7 linked regions of the Homo sapiens genome follow. The protein of the gene in region 6 interacts with the protein of the main gene of each other region in a biochemical or structural test. Each region holds a gene or a part of one and is shown on either strand. Other genes may lie near its edges.

What was found.
Region 1: the proteins of ARHGEF16 (region 6) and STXBP4 interact in a test that uses a peptide from one of them, tested with the Homo sapiens proteins (one large-scale study listed by IntAct).
Region 2: the proteins of ARHGEF16 (region 6) and MAGI3 interact in a test that uses a peptide from one of them, tested with the Homo sapiens proteins (one large-scale study listed by IntAct).
Region 3: the proteins of ARHGEF16 (region 6) and SHROOM4 interact in a test that uses a peptide from one of them, tested with the Homo sapiens proteins (one large-scale study listed by IntAct).
Region 4: the proteins of ARHGEF16 (region 6) and LIN7A interact in a test that uses a peptide from one of them, tested with the Homo sapiens proteins (one large-scale study listed by IntAct).
Region 5: the proteins of ARHGEF16 (region 6) and PTPN4 interact in a test that uses a peptide from one of them, tested with the Homo sapiens proteins (one large-scale study listed by IntAct).
Region 7: the proteins of ARHGEF16 (region 6) and SHROOM3 interact in a test that uses a peptide from one of them, tested with the Homo sapiens proteins (one large-scale study listed by IntAct).

What each region holds. Positions count from the first base shown.
Region 1 is NC_000017.11:54,975,265-54,978,764, reverse strand, and holds part of STXBP4 (syntaxin-binding protein 4), read right to left. Parts: intron 1-3,500. UniProt on the Homo sapiens protein: Plays a role in the translocation of transport vesicles from the cytoplasm to the plasma membrane. Inhibits the translocation of SLC2A4 from intracellular vesicles to the plasma membrane by STX4A binding and preventing the interaction between STX4A and VAMP2.
Region 2 is NC_000001.11:113,680,515-113,683,468, reverse strand, and holds part of MAGI3 (membrane-associated guanylate kinase, WW and PDZ domain-containing protein 3), read right to left. Parts: intron 2,272-2,954; coding exon 2,133-2,271; intron 1,286-2,132; coding exon of another isoform or gene 1,176-1,285; exon of another isoform or gene 573-1,175; coding exon 1-572.
Region 3 is NC_000023.11:50,811,395-50,815,463, forward strand, and holds the start of SHROOM4 (protein Shroom4), read right to left. Parts: upstream 2,801-4,069; 5' UTR 2,625-2,800; coding exon 2,508-2,624; intron 1-2,507. UniProt on the Homo sapiens protein: Probable regulator of cytoskeletal architecture that plays an important role in development. May regulate cellular and cytoskeletal architecture by modulating the spatial distribution of myosin II.
Region 4 is NC_000012.12:80,808,935-80,812,434, forward strand, and holds part of LIN7A (protein lin-7 homolog A), read right to left. Parts: intron 2,750-3,500; coding exon 2,531-2,749; intron 1-2,530. UniProt on the Homo sapiens protein: Plays a role in establishing and maintaining the asymmetric distribution of channels and receptors at the plasma membrane of polarized cells.
Region 5 is NC_000002.12:119,962,422-119,965,921, reverse strand, and holds part of PTPN4 (tyrosine-protein phosphatase non-receptor type 4), read right to left. Parts: intron 3,307-3,500; coding exon 3,178-3,306; intron 426-3,177; coding exon 277-425; intron 1-276. UniProt on the Homo sapiens protein: Phosphatase that plays a role in immunity, learning, synaptic plasticity or cell homeostasis. Regulates neuronal cell homeostasis by protecting neurons against apoptosis.
Region 6 is NC_000001.11:3,468,165-3,471,664, forward strand, and holds part of ARHGEF16 (rho guanine nucleotide exchange factor 16), read left to right. Parts: intron 1-715; coding exon 716-772; intron 773-1,268; coding exon 1,269-1,429; intron 1,430-1,835; coding exon of another isoform or gene 1,836-1,917; intron 1,918-3,500. UniProt on the Homo sapiens protein: Guanyl-nucleotide exchange factor of the RHOG GTPase stimulating the exchange of RHOG-associated GDP for GTP. May play a role in chemotactic cell migration by mediating the activation of RAC1 by EPHA2.
Region 7 is NC_000004.12:76,434,024-76,438,028, reverse strand, and holds the start of SHROOM3 (protein Shroom3), read right to left. Parts: upstream 2,801-4,005; 5' UTR 1,977-2,800; coding exon 1,809-1,976; intron 1-1,808. UniProt on the Homo sapiens protein: Controls cell shape changes in the neuroepithelium during neural tube closure. Induces apical constriction in epithelial cells by promoting the apical accumulation of F-actin and myosin II, and probably by bundling stress fibers.

The sequences.
Region 1 (3,500 bases), on a different chromosome or scaffold from region 6:
TTTAAGTTATTCTTTATTTTTTGAATGGCTTACAACAAGGATATATACTTTGATATATTATTTGGATAAAGAAGGAAAAATATCAAAAAAGTTACCATGTTCCAGTGTACCTTCTTGGCATCTAAATATCAGCTCTTTCTAATTATGTCTCCTTTAATGTCATTTTACCCTTTATGTTATTTTCTTCTTTCATCTTCATTTGCTAAGGTATCAACAAATGTTGCAATTTAAAAGAGAAAATAACATAGATCTGGTGTTTCACAAAGAAATTCAGCTACATCCTTTAAATAACTTCTTATGACAACTCCTTTGTAAGCAAATTGACAGGCAGTAGAAATAAATACACTTATTTTCTGCTATAATTTAAAAAGAAAGATGACTCATAGCAAAGAAGCTCATAGTACATATTACATAGTACATATATTTCATGTTTTTTTTATTGCATTGGGAAGAGTACCAGTCCAGAGGGTAGATGCCCACTAGACATATGACTTTGAGCAGCCACTTACTCTGCTCCCTAGTCTTCATATGTACGATGTCAAAATCATTCATAAAATGATCTTTAAAGGTTCTTTCTTGGCTCTACAAATCAAAAATTTTATGGCAGGCTTATTAAACTACAAGTCTCCCAATGTTTTTTGAGGGAACGATTTTCTTTTTAAAATATACGTCCACCTCTAAGATCAGTATGACCCATGAATGGGATGGGGTAGGCTGCAGTTGGTCATTTGGGAGGGATTAGAGTGGAGGGAAAAGTGTACTAGTGTAGTGACATTTCACATTAAGGTCATTTCAAAAGAGGAAGAGGGCACAATGATGTTGGCTGCTCAGTAAATAATCTGTCTGGTTTCTGTGGACTGACAAGTTAGAAATGCCTACTATTTATTTATTCACTAAAGCTAATATTAAAAATGTAAATATTTCTTCCTATAAAGTTGGATGTATTATACTTGAGGAGACACAAAAATGACAGCATTTAGAAACTGGTAACTTGTTTTATACCTTATCACAGCAGAGATTCCTCAAGATAACATCAGCTATTTATATAATCCTAAGGTTGTTTAAGAAAATTGGCAAAATCAGGAATGACTATTTTCCCTGGGCTAAACTTAACTGATCATTTTTAAATGACATGAAAGTTTCAGGAAACCAATATATAAAAGATCAAAGAGTTATAGTCATCCCTCAGTATTTTCAGGGAACTTGTTCCAGGACACTGCAGATACCAAAATTAGAAGATATTCAAGTCCCTGATATAAAATGGTGTAGTATTTGCACATAACCTATGCATATCCTCTCCTATATTTTAAATCATCCCTAGATTACTTATAATACAAAACACAATGTAAATATGTTATGCTATATTATTTAGGGCATGATGACAAGAAAAAGTGTGTACATGTTCAGTAAAGACACAGCCATTGTAGGCCTAATGTTCATTTTCAATCTGTGATTGGTTGAACCTGTGTATGTGGAACCTGCGGATACTGATGGCCAACTGTATTTTATTATCTTTTATTCTGTACCCAAAGGCAATATTCTGTTTACTAGTGCATGTTTTTTTCTTTCAAGAATCTAACGAGTTCAGAAATGCTACTCATTTGTCTTGGGGGTGTTACCAAAATGCCAGGGGTTCGGTTTAGGTCCTGTTGCTCACTACACAGAAAACCAATCACTGAAAGGAGTATTGCCAGGGAAGAAGGCTTTAACTGGGTGCCGCAGCCAAGGAGATGGGAAATTTGTATCCCTCTCCCTGACGAGCTAAAATTAGGGGCTTATATGGCAGGGAAAAAATGTAAGTATGTGTGGGAAAACAGGAATTAGGGAGGGGTAAGGAAGAGGAGTTGGTCAACAGGTAGCAAGTGATTGGTTAGGCCAGCAGTCCCCAACCTTTTTGGTACCAGGGACCAGTTTTGTGGAAGACAATTTTTCCACGCATGGGGGTGTGGGGGATGGTTTCCAGATGAAACTGTTCCACCTTAGATCATCAGGCATTAGATTCTCATAAGGAGCATGCAACCTAGACCACTCATATGCCTAATTCATAATAGGGTTCTCACTCCTGGGAGAATCTAATGCTGCCACTGATCTGACAGGAGGTAGAGCTCAGGTGGTAATGCCCACTTGCCCTCCACTCACCTCCTGCCGTCTGGCCGGGTTCCTAACAGGCCATGGACGGCTACTAGTCTGCAGCCTAAGGACTGGGTACCCCTGGGTAAGGCAGTCATGATGGCTGAAGGGTCTGGTATCATATTGTCCAGATGCAATGATCTGGTAAGTTTCAGTTTCTTGATAGTATCTGGGAGGCCTGATGGTTGGTTTCCTGAGAAAGTAACTCAGATAAGACAAATTTAACTTTCTCAAGTTTTAACAATGGGAGAATCAATTTCTGTGCTTATTCAAAGAAATGATTAATATCAGTTCTATGGGACAATTGGTCCTATTTCAGGATGCATAAGCATCTGCCTGTAACACACAGCCCAACTCAGTGGGAAACATCAGAAAACTACTTCAAAGAAAGTCTTAGTCTTCTTGAAAGGAGTCTTCATCAGCACAACAGCTCACTGCTCTCAGAAGTTTCCTTAGGCTACCGGACTGCCTTCTGTTTGCTTTCATTCATGCATTCATCCACCAAATTTTTAACTCAGTACAATTATGTGCAGGTACAACACTAAGGGCATGTGATATTATGGTGAACAAGTCAAGATCATTGCTCTTTTGGTATTTACATTCTAGTGGTGGGAGAAAAACAATAAAAAAAAGATACAATTAAATGAACTAGATTTCAGATATTGAAAGGTGATAGCAAATGTGACTAAGGAGAGAAGGGCTAATTTAGACTGGGGAGGGTGTCCCAGCTAAGATCCAAATAATAAGTCATCTGTGAAAAAAGCTGAGGGACAAAGCATTCCAGGCAGAGAAAAGGTCTGAGGGCAGTAAAACAAACTTGAGGTGTTTAAAGAAAAGAAAGAAGTGCAACTGGAGTGTGGTGAACAGGGAGAGAGTGGTAGGAGATAAGGTTAGAGAAGTAGGCAGGGTCTGGATTTCCTAGGGTCTTATGGGCTATGGTAGCAAGTTTGGAGTTTTGATCATATTTCACTTAACCTGACTATTCTCAGGAGACCTGAATTTGCCTTTCCCTTTATCTCTTACCTTTAACCTTCTAAAGGTTAAAAGTAAAGGCTCTAAAGGCTCTCCACTTTTGTACTTTCCCTAGTTTTCTGCCTTTGCCTTTAATCACATAATTAAATCACGTAATTAGACTGTGCTTTGGCCTGAATCATGTGAGACTGTCTGTCAGTGCATTTGAGATATAATATTGTGCCTATATCTGTATCTGCATCTCTATCTATATTTATATCTATTTACATCTTGACCAGGACTGGCTGCATAAATTGCAGGGCCCAATACAAAATGAAAATGCAAGGCCCCATGTTAAATAATTATTAAGAATTTTTAGCAGGGCATGGTGGTATGCGCCTGTAATCCCAGCTACTACT
Region 2 (2,954 bases), about 110 Mb from region 6:
AGCTTTGCTTCCTTCAATTTTTTGCTGCTTTTTTGGGCTGGCCGACCGACCTCTGCTTTTTCTGCACTGATCTTGTCCAGAGCCTGCCCTGGTGCTGACCTGACAACTTTTATTTTCCCCTTTGCTGGGGCTGAGGGATTGATCTCTGGGTCTTCTTTTGGGGTTATTTTTTAGAGGACTAGGAATCTTATCCAAATGTTCCTCTGAATGTTGACTGGCTGGCTTTTTGGGACTAACCGATCTACCTCTTCGTGTAACACCATTTTCTACTTTTAATAGATTTTTCTTGTTACTGTGCCCATGACTGCTGGGTGGATCCCTCTTACTCACATTTTTCTGGAGAAGAGACTGATGCTTTATCTCAGGCTGATTTTCATTTAAAGTGCTTTTCTTTTCAGGCACAATGTCCTTTAATTCTTCTGCCTTTTCACATATCTGAACTCTCAAAGATTCTTCAATTACTGGCACGTGAGACTCTTCAAATATGGAAGCAAAATGTGAAGATGGGGGTAATGGTGACTGTTCATCATAAATCACATTTGAAGACGAAGGATTATTAATATCCCAATCACCTAAAAAAGTGATTTGAATGGAACATTATTAAATTTTAGAATTACAAATAGGAACAATACGTTTTGAACTTTGACAGCCATTTGAATTGTCGTAACTGCTTAAAAAGCCTGAGTATTTTATACAGTTTGTATATGTTTACAACATATCTCTCTATAAAGGCGGATGTGTACAGACATCTGTTCATACATGAAGGATGGGTTGTTTATATACACAAAATAATATTCATTTTTTCCAATTACATATAATTAGTGAGATAATATATGATCTGTAAATTCTCTATTAGTAAAGCCCAATTAGAACTTACAAGTTATAAAGCTGAACCAAATTACGTGGCCCAAGAAGCTCACTAATTATTATGAATTGATACAGTTTAGGATATGGCAAAATCACTAATTAATAAAGGAAACCAAACTGTGGTAACCAGAATGAGGCTCATGGGCATTTGTAATAATTCTCTTGCATTAAGCTGTCAAATTTAATGTCAAAAGAAGACTGAAAAGTGCAGAAGATAGAAATAGATGTATTTAATAGCATCATTTTTAATTTAAAAGAAAACAAAAGAAGAAAGTGATTTACAAGACATGCAAATTTACCAAGTCTTTTTAAGGAAAGACCAAGAAAAGCCCTGAAAGCCTTAATGTTGCTCGGGTTTCACGTAGGAGCACAGACCGGAAGGAGCCAAACCTGAAGAGGGAAGAGAAAAAGCCTAGGACTATGTGAAAAAAAAAAAAAAAATCAGTGCAGTTAGCAAAGATGTCACTGGGAACATATGATTTACAAGCAGATGGTGGAAGATAATACAGTCAGAGAATCATAAGCTGGAAGGGTACTGTAGGAGGTTATGTCTACACTTATCCCTCAAAAGCGGTGGGGTGGGGTGGGGTAGGGCAGGAGGTGGGGAGCTAGATGAGGCAAGTACTGCGTGGGTGTGGTACTGCCTTTATTTCTAGAATAGTGCACTCAAAAAACAGTGACTTTCAAATACCATGATATTTCAAAACATGCCATGGAAACCCAGGAAGTTTAACATTAATACAGGACAGAAATGGTCTCAGGTCCAACTCCCTGTCTCCAGGTAGGGTGATAGCAACTTGTTTTTGCCGAGTCACCAGAAAAGCCTAAGTTTTCATGCTGCGCATTCATTATAATATAAACTTATCTTGCTTTACAGAAATAAAAATATTGGTTGGTAATGTGTAATTAGCTAAGTAAGAGAAAAAGCTGGGATATTTTGAAGAGATTTAAAACATTTTTTATGGTATTTAAATTGTTTGCCTCTAATACACTTTTTTAATAGGTACATTTCTCTACAAAAACAACTATATGTTTTTTCTGATTAAATTTAAAATACATTCCATTCCAACGAAAGTCCTGCCTAAGTCACTTGTTTTCTAATACTATTTATGATAACTCTGCTATGTAACTAGCTTTTCATGGTTCTAGCATTCACCTCTGAATTAACTAGTAAAATATCTATCCTCTCCAAATATATATTCCTTTTTCTTCTGTCCCCTCCCTAATATACAACTTTTCAGCTACTAGTGGGCTACTTTACTTACCATGGTCAGGTATCAAGCCAGTTCCTGGCCTCAAAAGAAGAAGAACTTTATTTCCACCAGCCTGAATGAGCTCAATTGCTCGAGTATGTGTGATTCCTTGTGTAGGTTCCCCATTGATTTCAACAATCTGGTCACCAACCTAGACAGAGAACATTCACAGGAACAACATGAAACTATGCATCCTTTGTAAATTCTGCTTTTGTCAGCTCTTGAGCCATTCAACCTTGCTAAGTGATTCTTTCGTTTGTAAAATACCTAACGTGTACCCAGTACTGCCATGTGAGAGTTGATGAGAGGACAGATGACAACAAACAACAGGAAGTGGCAATGTTCAGGTTTACTCACAAAAATCCTACACAGGAAAGTTTTATATGGCTACTAACTAAGATCTGGACATCTTGAAATCAAGAATCAAATTCTAGAATCAGATTTGGAATTTTCTAAATTTATAGAAATCAAATTTAGAATGTTAATCAAATTCTAGAATTTGGTTCTTGATTTGAAGATGCCCAGATCTTTAATAGCCATATAAAACTTTCCTGTGTAGGATTTTTTGTTTGTTTGTTTTGTTTTGCTTTTTGAGACGGAGTCTTGCTCTGTCGCCCAGGCTGGAGTGCAGTGGCGAGACCTCGGCTCACTGCAAGCTCCGCCTCCTGGGTTCACGCCATTCTACTACCTCAGCCTCCCGAGTAGTTGGGACTACAGGCGCCCGCCACCACGCCCGGCTAATTTTTTGTATTTTTAGTAGAGATGGGGTTTCACCGTGTTAGCCAGGATGGTCTCGATCTCCTGACCTCGTGATCCGCCCGCCTCAGCCTCCTA
Region 3 (4,069 bases), on a different chromosome or scaffold from region 6:
GCCTAGACCCAGGTAGGGCAAGTGATATACCTAGGATTCCAGAACTAGAGAGTGGCAGAAAAAGGATTAGAACCCAAGTTTTTAATCTGCCAACCCAATTATCTTTCTATTACCTTCCACCCATCCCAACCAGTGTGTACAGACTAAGAAGGCTGTTTTCAAGGAGAAAGCTGTATTGTTCTGAATCATAAAAGGAAATAAAATCAAGGTTGAAAAATGAAGAGGGAATTAATGAAATATGCCAAAACAGTGTCTTGTCAAGAAAAACACAATACAGGCAATCATTGTGCTTAAAAAAATACTATGGTCCCTTTATATACCGTTGAAGCCAACCCAGTTATAACTGACTTTTACTGTTAAGAACTAGGCTATTTGGGAGGAATGGGAGAAATAATTTTATCCCTTGCATATCTAAATGCATGTCATAATGAGCCTTCATATAATAGGGGTCAACTGTACATTCAGTGGAAAGGGAATCATTAAAAGGCACCCTGCCTCTCAACACACGAAGCACTTCCTCTACAGCTTGGCCAAGGAAACCCTCATCTACCCTCTCAAATAATCCCCCAGCCAGACCACAAATTGCTGGCTGCCCCATACTTAGTAACACCCCCTGCCATGCTCTCACTGGCTCACAAAATAATCCGGGACCACAGCAGCAAGCACTCTCTGGGGTGCTTCTCAAGATGGGTCAGCTCTGGGCAGAGCTGAAAAATGACCTCTCCAAGGCAGGTTGTCTAGGCAGACTGTGGAAATTCTGTGGGCGGTGTGAGGAGAAAAAGAAAGGGAGGAACTGCCAGATCATGGAGGGCTGCATATCCCATTGTGACCTTGGTGGAAAGAGTGGGGAGAGGAGGAGCTTGATTAGAAGAAATTCCTGAAGGCCAGGATTCCCCTCACCAAAGGAGTTGAGTGTTTTTGTTAAAAAAAAAAAAAAAAAAAAAAAGCATATAACTTTCTCCAGAGAACACTGGAGGGAGACTGCCTCAGGAGGGGTTGTGACAGTGGATGACAAACGCATCTCAGGCTGGTTAAAGTACATGACAAGTATGGGGGAAAGGGTGCTGGATGAAGATCTGGGCTAGTTTGGGGAGGCTAATGATCAGAGGGGTCCCTGCCAGCCCCTCAAAATGTTGCCTCAGCATACCTCAGACTCCTCAATCTGATTGGTACACCCATGGCAACACTCCAGGGTTGCTAAGAGTGTGGGCCCCAAGGCCTGAAGGATCCCATACACTGGAAGTCAACCACAGGCTCCAATGCAAGGCGAATGCCGCACAGGTTATTGTGGGTGTGTGTTGCGGTGGACGTTTGCTGAACCCTCTGCTGAGATGTGACCAATGTTGAACCCCACCCCCCCGCAAAAAAAAAGTGATATTTGCTCCCTGCTGAAAAGACACATCTTTCTATCTCCAGCCTGAACCCACATCTACAACTTCAACTGCCATTTAAGCGGGTTGGAAGCGGGAGGGCTTTTCGGATTTGAGGATTTAAGAGAAACAACAAAAAAGTGGAATAAAGTTCGTAAAGTCCGTTCACTTGGCAATCTGGCACCTCAAGGTGAGTCGTCCCACAAGTCACTCTTCCTGGTAACAGCTCCAGCTGCCCCTACCCCTCGCCCTCACCCCTACGGGGGAGGCTCGCTTTGGGGGTTCTGGAGCACTCAGGAGAGCTCCTCTCTCCTGTCCTCAGCTGCAACTTGGCTTCCAGCAGATCACAGACTCCTAAAACAAACAAACCCTGGCGGCGGCGGCGGCGGCGGCAGTGGCGGCGGCGGCGGCGGCGGCGGCGGCAGCGGCAGCAGCAACAGCAGTAGCTCCAGCACAGCTGCGCTCCATGGCGCAAGTTTCCTCCACACTTCTCAACGTGCAGGAAATCTCGCCGGCGCTGGGGCAGGACTCTGGAGGGAGGGAGAGGCCGAGCCGAACCGGCGGCAACAACGCCCCAAGAGCTGAATGGATGTGTGCGCGTCCGGCCGTGGGAAGTGTGGCTGGCAAAAGCCACCAATGGCCTCATCTCCGTTCCCACACCAGCCCCTAGCCCTGCAACCTGCCTGGGAGGGACGGCCCGCCGGTCGATAGAGGGGACAACGCTGCCAAGAGAGCTGCCAAGCCGCGATGACTGTCCCTTCAGTCCTTCACTGTCCCGCAGGGACGCAGAGGCCTCCAAGGAGAAATCCCCAACAGCCTCCACTTCCTTCGGCCCAAACTGAGGGAAGTAGCCGCCCCGACGTGGGGCAGCAAGGGCTGCCCCAGCGCCCTCGCGAGTGTGTCTGCGCGCAAGGTTCTAGCCGGGGGCCAGTTGTGCTCCCAGCTCGTGTTCCAGCCACCCTTAGGGGATGTCTGCACCTGGACTGGTGGCAAGACCCCTCCGTGCCGCTCAGAGGGTCTTTCGCTCCCAGCCCTAAGTTTCAAAGTTGGCCTGAGGGCCCCGTCCAGCGGCAGCCTTCGCACCCGCTTGTCCATTCAAAGTTAGGCGCCGTTAGGACATCAGCCGCCAGTTCTTACCTTAGACACTGTGAGCGGCTCACAGTGTTCCAGACCCCCCTTAAGGGTGAAGCCCCAGGGTGCCCCCCCTTGCAGCTGCACAGGGACGTACTGGAAGGACCCAGGCCGGTTCTCCATCCTCGGCTGGGCTCAGGCGCCGCCGGGCTCCTTTTCCGAGGGGGCTACGTTGCCTCCGCCCCCAGCAGCTCCGCCACCATCGCCCTCCAGCTCTACGCCACCCCGCACCGCCCTGCTCCGCCTACTCTCCCGGCTGGAGACGCTCAGGCAGCGAGCGAGCGCAAGGAGGAAATGACACGGAGCTGGAGAAAGGGGGAGAGAGGGGGGAAAAGGAGAAGGGAAAAAAAGAAAAGAAAAGAAAGAAGGAGAGGCGGAGGGATAGCGCGTAATGGACAAGAAAACGGAGCAATGGGGAGGGGCAGTCACTGGGACCTCGCCTATAGGATCGCTGGGGAGTGGGAGCGAGGCGAGGCCTCACATCAATTGTTACATTGTTTCATTCAAGCAGGGCCCCTCTTTGGTCCTCCTCTTTACTGCCGGGTTCCCCGCCCCTCCAGCCAGCCCAGGCGAGGGGAGGTGAAAGTCGTTAGTGTGGACGGCCCGCGTGGCTGAGTGGGCTGAAACGCTGGTTTCCTGATTAGCGCGTTCATGTTTCTCTGACTGCCTTTTTCTTCTGAAGGTCCCGAGAACGGAGACCTGGGAGGGTTAAAAGGCTGCTAATTTGTGGACCTTGCCTAGAGGGGTGGAAAGCAAAGCCAGCAGGCCAGCGGACATAGTGAGGCTGTGTGTGTAGACTGCTCTGTGTGTACGCGCTAGGTGTGTGGGGTCATTATGAAACATTGCCCCAGAGCATAGTTTAAATAAAGAAGCACTTTGAGGATGCCCCCTGCTCGGGCTCCCCCGCACCCTGGCTCAGTGTTGGTGTCTATGGCTAGCACTGTGCTTGTGTATGTTCCAGTCATCTGGAGTTCCTGGCACGGCCTTGCACTTGCCCCACCGAGATGAGCAAGCCAGCAATCAGCAAACTTTATGACTAGCAGTATTGTCTCTAAACAAACCTACAGGAAAGAGCATCCATTGATAAGCTGGCCAATTAATAATGTTGTGCCTTTGGGAAGAATCAGCTTTTAGACTGGGTCCAGAACATCTCTGCACATCTGTTCAAGCTTGACCTTGTAGTTTCTGAGCTGGGCTTTTGTAATAGACCAAACAGCCACAATAATAGTCCTGAAAAGCGAATTTGTTACTGAATCTTGTGCTGATTTCTCTGCCTTCACTTGGACAGGTTATCTTCTCTCTTTGAGGTGTTTTCTCTGGAGCCACATGCGGGCAGTGAATTTTTAAAGGGCCTCGCACTAGCGGAGAAAGTGTTGACAACTCAGTTGTGACTCAACAGGATGTTCCCACTCTGTCTCGCCTGTTCAGTTTCTTCCCCTGTTCTTGTGCAGCTTCTTCTTCATGGCCAACAAACACACTGCGGCCCCTTCCTTCACAGCCAGCTTTCTGCGGTCAAGGTTTCCACTCTCTACTTCTACTTCCTCACCTGTCACTGCCTCTTCAACGCA
Region 4 (3,500 bases), on a different chromosome or scaffold from region 6:
ATCCCTATCTTTTCCCCCCTTTTCTGTGTAGCTTCTTCTTTTCATTTTTTTTTTTTTGTGGTTTTTTTGAGACAGAGTTTCACTCTTGTTGCTCAGGCTTGAGTGCAATGGCTCGATCTCGGCTTACTGCAATCTCCATCTCCTGGGTTCAAGCAATTCTCCTGCCTCAGCCTCCCAAGTAGCTGGGGCTACAGGAGCTAATTTTTGAATTTTAATAGAGATGGGATTTGACGATGTTGGTCAGGCTGGTCTCAAACTCCTGACCTCGTCATCCACCCACCTCGGCTTCCCAAAGTGCTGGGATTACAAGCATGAGACACTGCTCCCAGCCTGTAGCTTCTTCTTTTCACAAGTGTCACAAACAATTAAAAGCCTCATGTTATATCCAATATTTCTGTTTGTGCAAATAGTAATCTGATGTTGAATGACCTAAAACCACTATTACCCACAATCATTTTTCCAAGAATATTTGAAGTTCACTTCAAATACACATTCACAGACATCATAGTGTAAAGGTATCTAACAATATGAACTGTCTTCTCCAAAGGATAGCAAGGAAAATTTATATAACTCCAGAATATCTGATGTTGGCAGATGAAAACCTGATGGAGTAAAAAGGAAAAGAATTCTATGTTTCTGTAAATGCAGTCATGGGAAATCCACTGAAGCTATTTTAGCTTCATATTTTCATCTAAAAAACTATTTATTGATACTTGCCTTGAAGGTTTTTTTCTGAGGATTAGGGATAAAATGTGATAAGGGCATAGGGCATAGTAGGAACTTCTAAGATGGGGTCTCTTAACATTTTTTCTTCAATTCTCTTGATAATATACAGCAAAACCTGATTTAGTGTTCTTTGTTACAAAGTGGAATTTAGAAAAAGGCAGGAGAATCTTAGACACATTTTATTTCTACTTTACAACTTTTTCAAAACTCTTAAAGTTTTATTTTTCATTGACAAGTAATAATTTTATATATTTATGGATTATAATGCGATATTTCAATGCATGTATACATTGTGGAATGATCAAATCAGGCTACCAAAGTTGTTACCACAAATACTTATTGTTTCTTTGTGGTGAGAATATTTACAGTCCATTCTCTCAGCTATTTTGAAATATGCAATGTAGTATTATTAACTATAGTTACCAAGTTGTATAATAGATCATCTTAACTTATTCCCCTTCTACCTAACTGAAACTTGTAACCTTTAGCTAAGACCTTTTCCCTTTTCTCTGTCTACCCTCCTCCCCCAGCCTCCCAGCCTCTGGAAACCACATTCTACTCTCTACTTCTATGAATTAAAGTTTTTCAGATTCCACACATAGGTGAGATCATGTGGTATTTGTCTGCCCATGCTTGGCTTATTTCACTTAGCATGATGTTCTCTAGGCCCATCCACGCTGACAAAAATGACATTTCCTGCTTTTTAAAGGCTAAATATTAAATGGTATACATCTGTGTGTGTGTGTGTGTGTGTGTGTGTGTGTGTGTGTGTGTGTGTAGGTAGATATAGATATCTATCACATACTTACCACATTTAAAAAATGTATTCATCCCTTGATAGCACTTCAGTTGTTTTCATATCTTAGCTGTTGTAATAATGCTGTATTGAACATGGGAGTGTAAACATCTCTTTGACATATTGATTTCAATTCCTTTGAATATCTCCCCAGAAGCAGAATTGCTGGATCATATGGAATTCTATGAACTTTTTTGAGGAACCTCCATATTGTCTGTCAAATTGGCTGTAGCAATTTATATTCCCACCAACGGTGTACAAGGGTTCCCTTTTCTTCACATCCTCACTAGCACTTGTTATCTTTCCTCTTTTTGATAATAGCCAAATTAAAAGGTATGAGGTGATATCTCATTGTGGTTTTAATTTGCATTTCTCTGATGATTAGAGATGTTGAGCATTTTTTCATATAGCTGTTGGCCATTTGTATGTTAGACACACTTTAAAGGAGCATCCGCAGAGAACTTCAGAATCTCTTACAGCATAGACAGTGGCAGGTCTCAGCTTCATTCTTTTCAGTGGGGCACTTTTCCAATAAATTGTATCTCAGTATTCTAAAGGAGATCTTTCCAGGGTCAGCACTATAAGGTTGTGCAGTTAATACACTGTGTAAAGGCAACTGGCCAACAGGGTGAGTGAGGCCTGGAATCCAGCCCACACTCTTCTCCTTAGGATCTGGGTTTGCACAGAGGCTGCATTTTCTTAATTTGTATAAAAGCATCCTAGAGCCTGTACTTGCCCCTTTCAAAGTATATCATTTTCCAAATTATCTTATATTTGTGGAGAATATAGCTGAATGGCACATAAACTATCTTGCTTATATACTTTTAGATCACTGTCTTTTGTTTGATTGATTTTGTTTGGATTATTTAAATCTAATGATTTTGTTTCAGCTAAGAAAATATATTTTAGAACATATCTAAAATATATTTTAAGTATATTCATATATACATATATGTGTGTGTGTATATATATATATATACTCCTTGTATAGAATAAGTCACTTCTCACCTATGACATGTGGTTTTGTTGTGTTTGTTGCTGCTGCTGCTGTTGCTGCTGCTGAATTAGCAATTGCTGCTGCTGCCGACGCCTGGCTGTTCGTAGCTTTTCAAAGCGAGCCTCCATTTCTTCCAGAACTTTTGGGGTGTATCGCACCACCAGCTTGACGCTGTCTTTAGCAGCCTTGAGTAGTTCCACAGCTTTCTCATGGTGTTCTCCTTCCACACTCTGAAAATACAATGACACTTCTTAAAGGGAGGAGGTTCAATGTTCTTTTCCCTGGAGACAAATCTGAAATTAATATCACATTAAGAACCCAAAATTTAAAATTTTAAGAAAACATGGCAAATGAGTTATCTTACCATCATCGTTATTATTTATTACATTGTGGTTAAACTATAAGCAGGTTAGGCTGCACTAGGTCACAGAATGGACTGTGTGGGGATTCAGGTCATAAGGGTGAAAAGCAATGAAGACCTAAATTATAATGCTAACATTAGGAATGAAATTTCCAAATTTTATCTGGAAGAGTAAATGCACTAGTCAACAAAATTTTGAAAAAAATTAAAACATAGTAACAAAGAGAAAATTTCTGTATCAGATATTAAAATTTATTAAGAATCTACAATGATTAAAGTGGTGTCTTATTGTGTGTATAAAAGAGATAGTAGAACATAGCACAGAGTCCAGAAGGAGAGTCATCACATGGAAAGCTTTATTTATTATTAATGTGGACTTTAGACCAAAGGAGAAAAGGACTATTAACTAAATTAAATAATACAAAATAATGGAGACTCAATCTCATACACTATGCTAAATATAACAGATTAATTAAAATTTAAATGTAACATAAAAACATAAAGTAACTAAAATAAAAGAAAGGTGAACATTAATCATTTTTCAATAGAAAAGGAATTCTTAATTTAAAATGCCACAGGAAAAATAACCACGAAATCAGATGTGCACAGTGTAAGTTTCT
Region 5 (3,500 bases), on a different chromosome or scaffold from region 6:
TCTATTGTAAATTGTTAAGACCAATTTCAGAGGTGTTAAAATATGAAAAGGAGGAGCATCTAAGAATCAGTGCAATCAGTATTATTTTTATATCTTATGATAAAGTTACTGCCAATCATATGTTAGAACATATCCTTTGCCTCCTACCTTCAGAGCATAGCTTTGAGTTCTAATTATTACAGTGACAATAACACCATAAGGACAAAATATGTACTCTCTTTTAAAAATGACGTATCTGTTCAGCTATACACTCATAAAAGACGGAAAACAGAGTACCTGCAATGGACAACAACGGGTTCTTCCTTGCCAGCCCTCTTGTTTCGTACATGACAAACAAAATCTAGAAAGTCACTCGAATCATCAGGGACTCCATGGTCAGGCCAGGCTATGTACTGGATCTGAGTGAGTGGACGACTTTCATTTTTCTAAGAACAAATGAAAAATTATGCACCTTGACTTATGTATTATTGAAATTGTCCCTACAAACCTCATAAAATTCATCAGGAAAGAAGGGAGGGGGAGATAGAAAACTAAACACAGCTTGCAGCACACTTAGCATTGATCACTAGGTCAGCTGCTCTCTGACCCGCGTCCTCATAGTTGGTTGGTGCCTGTTGCCTCAGAATCCCACAGACCCATTACAAGATTATAGTTCCCCTTAACTGCTCTACAGATAACAACTTGGGACATTATGAAATGTTAGATTTCCCCTTTGAGACATTCTTTTGGGTCCTGCATACTGATGAAACTACTGACTCAGTTGGTCTAAAGGACCCTGAGGTAAGCTAACTCACCAAAGAATGCACCTCCTGATGATTTCATCCACCTTATCCCAACCAATCAACGATCTTAACTTCCCAGCCCCTTGCTCTCCACCATCCCCTTAAAAACCCCATCCCAGATCTCATCTCCTTGGGGAGATGATTTGAGGGTCTCCTCCCATCTCCTTGCTCGGTACCCTGCGATCATTAAACTCTTTATCTGCTGCATCCCTGCTGTCTCAGTGTATTCGTCTGTTATTGCACAGCAGGAATATGAACCTGTTGGTACTATGACATTATCTTTAAAATATATTCATGTCATTGGAATTTTAGAAGGAAAGCAAAACCAACCACTCCTCTTCTCCACCAAAAGTTATGTATAAACTCATTAAAATGCAAAATTTCAACAAAAAGGAAAGAAACTATTTTACAGAAATAGTTGTATCCATTTAAGTATGGCTAATTACATTACTACTCTTTTTATAACTCAATTTCTATATGTGTAAAGTATTTTAAAGATGATAATCAAGTACATAGGTAGAAACAAATTAAGACCCAGAGAAATGCTTAAAAAAAACTAATGAATTCTTGGGTGAGCAAAAATGGTAAAGTAAAAAACATTTTTTGTGAACAAAGCTGACCTAATCCTCACACAATGCAGATGAAATTATGGAAATCAGAAAAATAAAATCTCAAGATAAATGTATATTAAAAATTGGAGTTAATAAAAACACAAAGTCAAATCAGTGGGATTAATTCTTTTTGGAGAGCCAAGGTTGGTATAACGGAGACAGTAAGAGTATTGCGTTTAGATACATCTTGGTTCAAATCTTGACTCTGCCAGTTACAGCATTCAGTGTTTCAGAAAATAATTTCCTTCAACTGAAAAATGAAATAACATCTATACTTTAAAGGATCAGTCTTATGCTAAAAAGACTCCATGAGAGGACCTGTAAATCACCCCATCAGCTACTTGGCACCATATACTCAATAAATGGTTGCTATAGTCATTCAACACTATAATTATAACTATGGTTATTGCCATTTACACTGAAGAGAGCTTCCTGAAGAGTAAAAGTAAAAGGTATTCAAGACTTGAGGTAGTATCTGCTATCATTAATCCATCCATGTATGTATGTATTTATGGGAGCGAACTCATTTTCCCAATTATGTTTGGCTCAAACTTTAGAAACTAACTCATGTCTTAGTTCTAATGTACTCAGGGTGTGTAAAGAAAAGCCACTATGGTATATAAAACTGTCATGGATAATCTACAGGTGGAGTATAATAGAGACTATGCTAAAGATAGACATTATTTTATATAAACATACGTAGCCTATCTTTCATTATCTATTTGAGAAAATGAAGAAATATCATATTGGCTTGACCTGTTACATTAGACCATGAGCTACACAGTATATGTCCCCAAACCCTAAATTCATTCTGATGGACTCTAGCCCATAAAATTTTGAAATTTTAAAATTCTTGTCATTTTAGCTTTATTCAATGCCAGATTCCTTTTCTATAAATCAGCACAACTTCTGGCTTCTTCCCTTTTCGTCAGTAAGACTCTGTCTCTCTGGTTTCCTTTAATCATGCTCTTGGGGTTGGAGGGGAGTTCTCATTTCCAAAGGCTTGACCATTGATGGGATAGTCCTGGGCACTCATAGCTTGGGCTATTTGCTCTTCTCTAGCAGTTATTCTTTTAGTCCCTTTCAAAACCAAAGATGGTGGCAGGGGGATAGCTAGCTGCAGGCAGAGAAAGTAGGGTGCACTGTCTCTAGCAGCCTGACAGAACTGGCAGCATGACGCTCTCTACATACATCTTCCAATTGGGATACTGAGCCATCATTTATTAATCAGTTTCATTTGAAGCCAAGAGGACTGACTCAGGCAAAATTAAGAGCTGGCAATTAGAAATCTACACCCCATCTGCTGTCAGAAGGTCCTGGTTACAACCTTTTCCTTCTTAATAGGTAGGGGACTGTGAAGTTGCTCTCCTCTACTCTTTTAAAAAAGGAAAATAATTTAATAGCTTTCAATTGTTTTTTCCATTTCCACAGACACACCCAAATACTGTACTGATACTACTTGGAGTAAAAGTTTTTTTTATAATGAAACATATCTAAACAGTTGTTCTGAATAAGCAAAGTAGTAACAGTAGTATTATTTACCAGACTACTTTTTCACTGACCATTCATATTTAGTCATAGAAACTAAAGAAAAACATTAATTTTATAATAGAATAGGATAATACTCTTAATAAAATTCCAAAGTACCCCATTAAAGCAGATAAATAATTCAATAATTCTTATAGTATTTCCTAGCAACCAATACTCAAACTAAAAACATTTTCAGCTTTCAGTCTTTACCCTGAACACAACAGTTCTAATGAACAGATATCCTGCCTTCTTACCTCTTGGTTAAATAGGGTCATCTTCCTGAAGATATAGGCAGTGTTTCCTTCTTCAGAGTGGCAGGTAACTTGGTAGCATCCATAAGATGAACTGCCTGTGGGTTCTGGCCAATATTGGTGACATTTAACCTGATATTGATATAAATAAATAATAAATAAAATTATATACATATGGATTCATGTTCTCCAATTTTTAAAAATGTTTTTTTAATAAATTTCAAACATATAAAAGTTACAAGAAAAATTTAATAAATTTCATCTCGATCTGCTGACTAGTGTTTTTTTTTTTTGCGATGGAGTTTTGCTCTTGTTGCCCAGGCTAG
Region 6 (3,500 bases):
TACCGCACCCTGGTAACTGCCAGAGTTTCCGACCCTGCATGGGAAGGAGGCACTGGTTTGGGGAATGGGGGACTCACCCTTGGCCCAGGCGCTGTTGGCGGCCTTTCTGCCCAGCCCAGTGAGGAGCAGAGCACGAATCAGGGTGGCCTGAGTCCTGCAGAGGGGACCCCTGGGCGGTGTGGCAGCCCTCCTGGTCCTGACGTGCTCTACCAATCGAGCCACACTCCCGCCAAGGCGACCCGCCAGCTGTGGGCCCCGAGGAGGAGGGAGCCCGGGCGGAAACAGCGTCACCCATAGCTTCCAGGCAGGGCACTGACTCGCCTCGCCCAGGTGGGGTCTGAGTCACAGTCCTGCCCTCCACACTCCCTCCCTGGGTGGGCTCCGCACCTCTCCATCTGCCGGGAAGATCTGTGGGACAAGATCCCCCCCCGCCCTCTGGCCTCTCCCTCTGGATGCCCCATGCTCTTTCTGGGCTGCTTTGGGGCTCTGGCGGCTGGGGGGAGCGGGGGGCTGACCCAAGGCGGGTTACACAGAGAGGAAGGTGACGGGGATAGGCCCTCGGCAGGACAGGCCTACTCCAGGATCGGACCTACCTGAGCCCTGTGGGGTGGCTGTCCATGTTGGCCCTGGTCCATCAGGAGGAGGAAAGAAGGGAGACTTTGGCCCAGGCTTCTAGGACGTGTGACCGAGAGCTCCTGGGCCTGTGTCCCCCCAGGTGGTGGAATTGGGCATCCTGGACCAGCTCTCCACTGAGGAGCGGAAAAGGCAGGAGGTAAAAGGGCCCTGGGCGGGAGGGCTGTCCCCCATGGCCTGGGCCATGCAACACCCGGGGAGGGGCAGCAGCCACGGTGGCACCACCCAGCCATCCCTCTGCGGCCACCTCCAGTGCCAGGCCCTGTCACGCTGACCAGCGCCTCACACAGCCCCGGGCTGTGCTTCCACCTGCGCCAGGCCCTGACGGAGCCCCTTCACGTCACCGGGTGAATCCTCGGAGTCCAGGGGCTGCCATCACCCCCTTCTCTGACAAGGACGGGGGTCGTTGCCCAGCTTCAGCCGGCTCATAAGGCACCCAGCCAGGGGCATCCAGGGACGTCGGGCTGGCATCTCCAAGCTGGCCATTCTGACAGCCCCATCCAGGGGTGTGTCTGGGGTTCCTGTCCCCACCTGCCCCTGCCACCCGGGTCACGTCCTCCTGTTCCAAGCATTGGTCACCGAGGCACGCCCGTGTCCAGCGTCACTGTGGGGCTCACCTAGGCCCCTCTCCACAGGCCATGTTCGAGATCCTCACGTCGGAGTTCTCCTACCAGCACAGCCTGAGCATCCTGGTGGAGGAGTTCCTGCAGTCCAAGGAGCTGCGGGCGACCGTGACCCAGATGGAGCACCACCACCTCTTCTCCAACATCCTGGATGTCCTGGGTGCCAGTCAGAGGTGAGGCCACGCCACAGCCTTCCACACAGGGTCCTCTGCCAGGAAGGTGCCTCCCCCCGTGGGCACCGCACTGTCATCAGCAGGCCCCTGGGAGCCTGCGCTGCACCTTGATGTGGATGGTTTAGAGCAGCTGCTGGCTCCCGCGGAGTGTGATGACCTCTGAGGGTCCTTGAGGCCACCAAGAGCTGGCCCCAGGGCCGGGCTAAGCACTGGGGCTGTGGCATCCTGGTCGTTCTTAAGACGTGGAGCACTTCCCAGGGGTACAACCCTGCCCCACTGCCAAGCACCACCCCACCAGGACGTCCAGGCACAGAGGGCTGCATGATCCAGGCAGTGGTGGCCACAAGCTGCTCACCTGTAGGCAGGAAGCCTCGAGTTGCAGCTCTGGGTCATGTTCCACCCAAAGGTGTCTGGTGGCTGGACCTGAGCTCTGGTTGCAGGGCCTGGAGGTAGAGAGGCTGGACATGCAGCTGCAGCCATGCACGGGGGTATGTGCGTGGGGTGGGGTGGGGTGTGTGTGCGTGGGTGTGTGTGTGGGGTGGGGTGTCTGTGCATGGCTGTGTGTGCATGGTCAGTGGTGTGTGTGAGTGGGCTGGCCCCGAGGCCTGGAGGGTGGCTCGGGAGCATCCAGCACCCTGGTGTGTATGCATGGGTGTGTGGGGGCAGGGGTGTGTATGCATGGGCAAGGGTGTGTATGCATGGGCAGGGGTGTCTGCACGGGTGTGTCTGCACGGGTGTGTGTGGACAGGGTTGTGTGTGCGTGGGCAGGTATGTGTGTGTGTAGGTGTGCATGGGTTTGTGTGCCTGGGCAGCAGTGTGTGTGCATGGGTGTGGGGCAGGGGTGTGTATGCATGGTTGTGTGTGCGCGGGTGTGTGCATGGATGTGTGTGCATGGACGGGTGTGTGCACAGGCAGGGATGTGTGTGCGTGGGCAGGGGTGTGTATGCGTGGTCAGGGTTATGTGTGAGTGGGTAGGGGTGTGTGTGAGTGGCTGTGTTTTCGGTCAGGTGTGTGTGAGTGGGTGTGTGTGCGTGGGCAGGGATGTCTGTGTATCTGCGTGGTCAGGGATGTATGTGAGTAGGTGTGTGTGCGTGGGCAAGGGTGTCTGTGCATGGCTGTGTGTGCGTGGTCAGGGGTGTGTGTGAGTGGGCTGGCCCCAAGGCCCGGAGGGTGGCTCGGGAGCATCCGGCACCCTGGTGTGTATGCATGGGTGTATGTGCATGGATGTGTGTGTGGGCAGGGGTGTGTGTGCGTGGACAGGTGTGTGTGCGTGGGCAGGGGTGTATGTGCGTGGGTGTGTGTGCCTGGCCAGGGGTATGTGTGTGGGCAGGGGTGTGTGTGCATGGGCAGGGGTGTGCGTGGGTGTGTGTGCCTGGCCAGGGGTGTGTGTGCGTGGGCAGGGGTGTGCGTGGGTGTGTGTACCTGGCCAGGGGTGTGTGTGCGTGGGCAGGGATGTGTGTGTGCATGGACAGGTATGTGTGCATGGGCAGGGGTGTGTGTGCGTGGGTGTGTGTGCCTGGGCAGGGGTGTGTGTGCGTGGGTGTGTGTGCCTGGGCAGGGGTATGTGTGGTCTCGACCCTGTGCTGCTCCCTATATGCAGGAGGACCCCGGAGCATCGAGTCTCCTGAGCCTCAGCCTCAATGCTAACCTGAGGGGCGGTGCCTCTGGTCCCCTCGTGGGCTTGGGTGGCGCTGGGAGATGATTAGGGGCCTGTAGTGCCTGGCACAGGGCTGCCCCAACAGTGGTGGTTGCTGGCGCATTCTTATATCAGCCCCGCCCCTGGCGAGTCCCACCCATCTGCTGCCTGTGGGGTGCCCTTGCGGAACTTTGGGGCCCTGAGGGTGGGCAGGGAGCCGCCTTGTCCCTGGAGACAGGGGCTTCCTGTAGAGCTCCAGGGACCAGCTATGGGAAACTCCCAACCTCTGACTCAGCATGGGATGGGGCTGGGGGAGGGGGAGGGGTCTGGGATAGCGGCTGCCCCTCCCCCAGCTCTGCCCCCAGCCAGGCAGGCTTTGTGTTCTCTGAGCTCTGTGTCCTCCGGTCCCCTCTGCCTCAGGCAGCTGCATGTTTG
Region 7 (4,005 bases), on a different chromosome or scaffold from region 6:
GCATGGTTGCATTTAAACACAACCCATTAAAGTAGATAGTAGGATAGCCCCATTCTGCAGGTAAAATGGAGGCTTAGAGAAGCTGGCTCATTAGTGGGAGGATTAGACCTTTCTGTCAGCAAACTGTCAGATACTGTAGTGTATAGATACAGAATATTTTATCATTAAGGGACAGGCAAATTGTGTACAACTAGACTTTTTAAATGCCGAGACAATATTTATGTTCATTGCAGAATTATCTGTTATTCAGCAACCATGCCCTCTTTCTTCCTGCAAAAAGAACCTCAAATCATTCAAACAGTGGGCAATGATTCCTTGACTTCAGGAAGAGTAGGTCCTTATTGTAGAAACCTGTGAAAGAAATCCTAATCAGTCTGTATTAATCACTGGCATTTCTTACCAGTGATTGGCCTAAAGACAGGCACAGGGTACAGTTCTGGTTAATGAGATGAAAGCAAAGGTCTAATGAGAAACAAAAAGCCAAAAACCTGTCTGGAATGAAGATGCAATCAATGCTGGAGTTGTGGGATCCATCATGCAACCATGAAGACAAAGCCAACATCATAAGAATGGCAGAGTGGAGAGATAAGTGGGGTCCTTGATCACATTATTGAGCTGCTGCTCCCCTTGCCTGGAAAATCTACCTCCAAACTTCTTGTAATATGAGAAAAACAAACCCCAATTTACTGAGAGCCACTATAAACTCGGTTTTGAATTTTTTTCACAGGGGGAAGCCTTCCTAACTGACACACACATATGCACATCCTTTTGTTTTACTTAAGAAAGTTAAGGAAAAGTCATACAACTTATAATGGTGTCCCGTGCACTCGTGGCTTATCACTGTGAAACCCAGTTCTCCCTGGCTCATCCACAGTAAGAATTACTTCAGTAATTTGAAAAATAACCTTTTGGAATTATTTCTGGGGATATGAAAAGTAACCTGAACCAATAACAGAGCTCAAATGCAATCCATATTACCTTCTTCCCACCCTCAAATTAAAAATTTTTTCTCCCTTAATTACAAATGTTTCTTGATGAATGCACATGTGTGAAAAGCCATTATAATCTATTGTATCAGACTATTAAATACTCTAAAAATTTAAAAGCAATATTATAACAAGTAATGTTAATCTGTAGTTTAAGAGAAAAATAGAAATATTAACCCCAGTACATAAATATTTCATTGGTATGACTACCCACACCAAAAGATAAATGAAGAATTGAGGTATGCTGCAGGATGACTAAGGTTTAAAAAGGGATTCAAATATACAGATAAATAGGAGAGGCAGAAATGTTTTGATCTTGAGTTATGCTGAAAGCTGATTTAATTCTCCTTTCTGAGTGTGGGGAAAAAAAGCAACACATGGTATTTATGCAATCTATTATCCAGAATTATAAGCAAACTTAAAATATTTTTAGATGCTATTTTCAGTTGAAGAGAGAAAAAGCAGATATTTTTGAATGCACAAATATATACCATGCCACCATCTTAACCATGTTATTAATCTTTAATCTGATTTATAACTGAAAAGCTCATGTGGTAACTGATTGTATGCGATTTCATTCACAAAAAGAGAAGATTATCCATCAAACAGGCATATTTTTCTTCGGATTTCATAGAATAAATGAGCTAGACACATTTTTCTTTCAAATCCCAGGCTATCCAAAATATTTCTAGATAATCAGAAAGGCATGAAACAGCAAATTAAGTTATATTAAGGCAGTTCTCATTATTTTGCATTTTTGACAAATCTGACAAGTTGAAAAAAACAATTTGAATAAAGGCAATATTGGAAAAAGAAACATACCTTAGAGATGATTAATGGTTCTCCGTGCTCCAGGCCACCCTTTAGAGTAAAACCCCAGGGAGCTCCTCCCTCCAGGAATGCCTCCAGATAAATGTACCTTCCCTTGGTGGCCGTGTTAGAGTTTAATGTGGCACTAGGCTTGTGGAAGTCTTCAGTGGTCCTCATCATGCCAAACACATGATCCCTCAAGTTAAATTTAAAATGCCTGAAGCAAACTCAGGCAAGCAGTGCTTCTACAGCACAAGTTGTCCCATCCTTCAGGACACACAATGGCCAAAAGAGAGGTTTGGAGAAGCAAATTCTTCCATACGTAAAATGTTCTTCCAAGCTGAACTCCAAGATGCTGAACCAGAAGGAATTTTCACTTCAACATTTCTGAATGTAAATCCTCCTCCAGGAATTCTGGGTTCTCACTGAAGCCCCCAAGTGGTATACATCTCTACTCCGTTCGTCAAAACTTCCTTCAGTGGCGCTCTGAAGATTGCTTTTCTGAGCTTTTATTTCACACATACACACACTAAAACCATTTCTGCCTATTTTACAGAGAAAATTAAAAGCATCTTACAATATAGTAAGAAAATCACAAATACTCAAAGGAATACCTCATTTTTGATTGATTATCAACCCTTTCTTCCTCTCGGAGTGAAATTTACCATTACAATAGCCTCCTCCCTCCCCAGAAGTAGCTTAAAAAGAAAGAAAGCACTTACTATGCTTCGGCTCACTTCAGAATTTTCTAACTTGTCCCGAAGAGACAGAGAAGCTGTGCTAAAACTTTTTACTTCTTTTTTTCAACAATCAGTTCATAGTTTGTTTCTTAGGAGAGAAAAAAACTTTTGCAGGATGTAGAGAAAATGAAAAAGCACGGTAAATTAATCCTCAATGGAAAAAATATGAAGGAGGCAGCTCAGTTCTTTTCTTTGGTATTTTCAGTGATGATCAGCCACTGCTGCGGCCGCCACAGCCACTTGCCTCCTCTTGAGAGAAAGAGTAAGGAAGTTAGAGGAACATGGATTAAGGCAAAGTGAGGCATTGCAACCTTTCTGCACAGTAAGCACTGCCATGCAGAATTCAGCTCACCACAAAGACCTGACAATTCAAACAGTCTTACAGTTAATAACACGTAGGAAGTTAAAAATACTATACAGATGGCTAATTGCCAAGGGATAGAAAATAGTTCCTAGAATAGCCCCGCCTCGTACCAATTAAAGGAGAATTTCAGGGAGTGAGACATAGGCATTTGTGTTTTTAAAAACCCTCCAGGCAATTCTGCTATGCAGCCAAGTTTGAGAAGCAATGCCTAAGTGATTTGGGTAAACGTTTAAGTACATGTCAAGGTGGTGGCACAAGGGCTTTTTTTTTTTCGTTAGAAGAAAATACTACCAGTGTAATATATGAAATGGGACTTTCCAATCAAAGTTCTGCTTGTTTGACTCAATAAAAACAGGAGGTGGGTTTTTTTTTCTAGGTTTTCATTGTTATCTACTCCAAGATTGTTATCCACTCTTTAAATGAAAAGAAATCTACAATGCCTTGTGGGTAAGTACTAGGTACTCGGGAAAGAATGTTGTTCTGATTTCATGTTACCAGTGTCATTTTGTAATAATGTTATATACAAATTTAACATTCATGCTTTGTATTAAAAATTTGAACAGTAGAAGATAACCATATCTAACCCAGAAGCCTCAGCTATTTAGTTATTGGAACAGATTAGAATTACTTCCAGGTAATATATGTACTAAAACTTTTTTCTGTTTAAAAGTATGGGATAATGAGAATTAAGTTGAAAACTGAAGTTAAAAACTACTGTGGGGCTTGATAACAATTATTTTGGTGTTTGTACTTATAATTAATGAAAGGCTGATATGGAAAGGCAGGTATATGATATCAAACTACACGATATTTAATTTACAACACTGGACAGGTATTGTTTGATTTTCAATGGTAACTTCACTTGAAGGGCTCAAAGACAAAAAAAAAAAAAAAAAAGTAAAACCTTATGTAATGGTAGTATGTGAATGGAAACATAAGGAAACCTAAGGTGTACCAAATGAAAGTATGTGGTAAAAATTGGCTGATTCTTAAGGGTAATTTACGCAATTTCTATTGTGGTTTTCTTTTACAGCTTAATTTGTAAGTTAGAATAAATGGAGAAACATTAGCTTTTCTTTCATTTCAAAGAACATATGTATTTTAA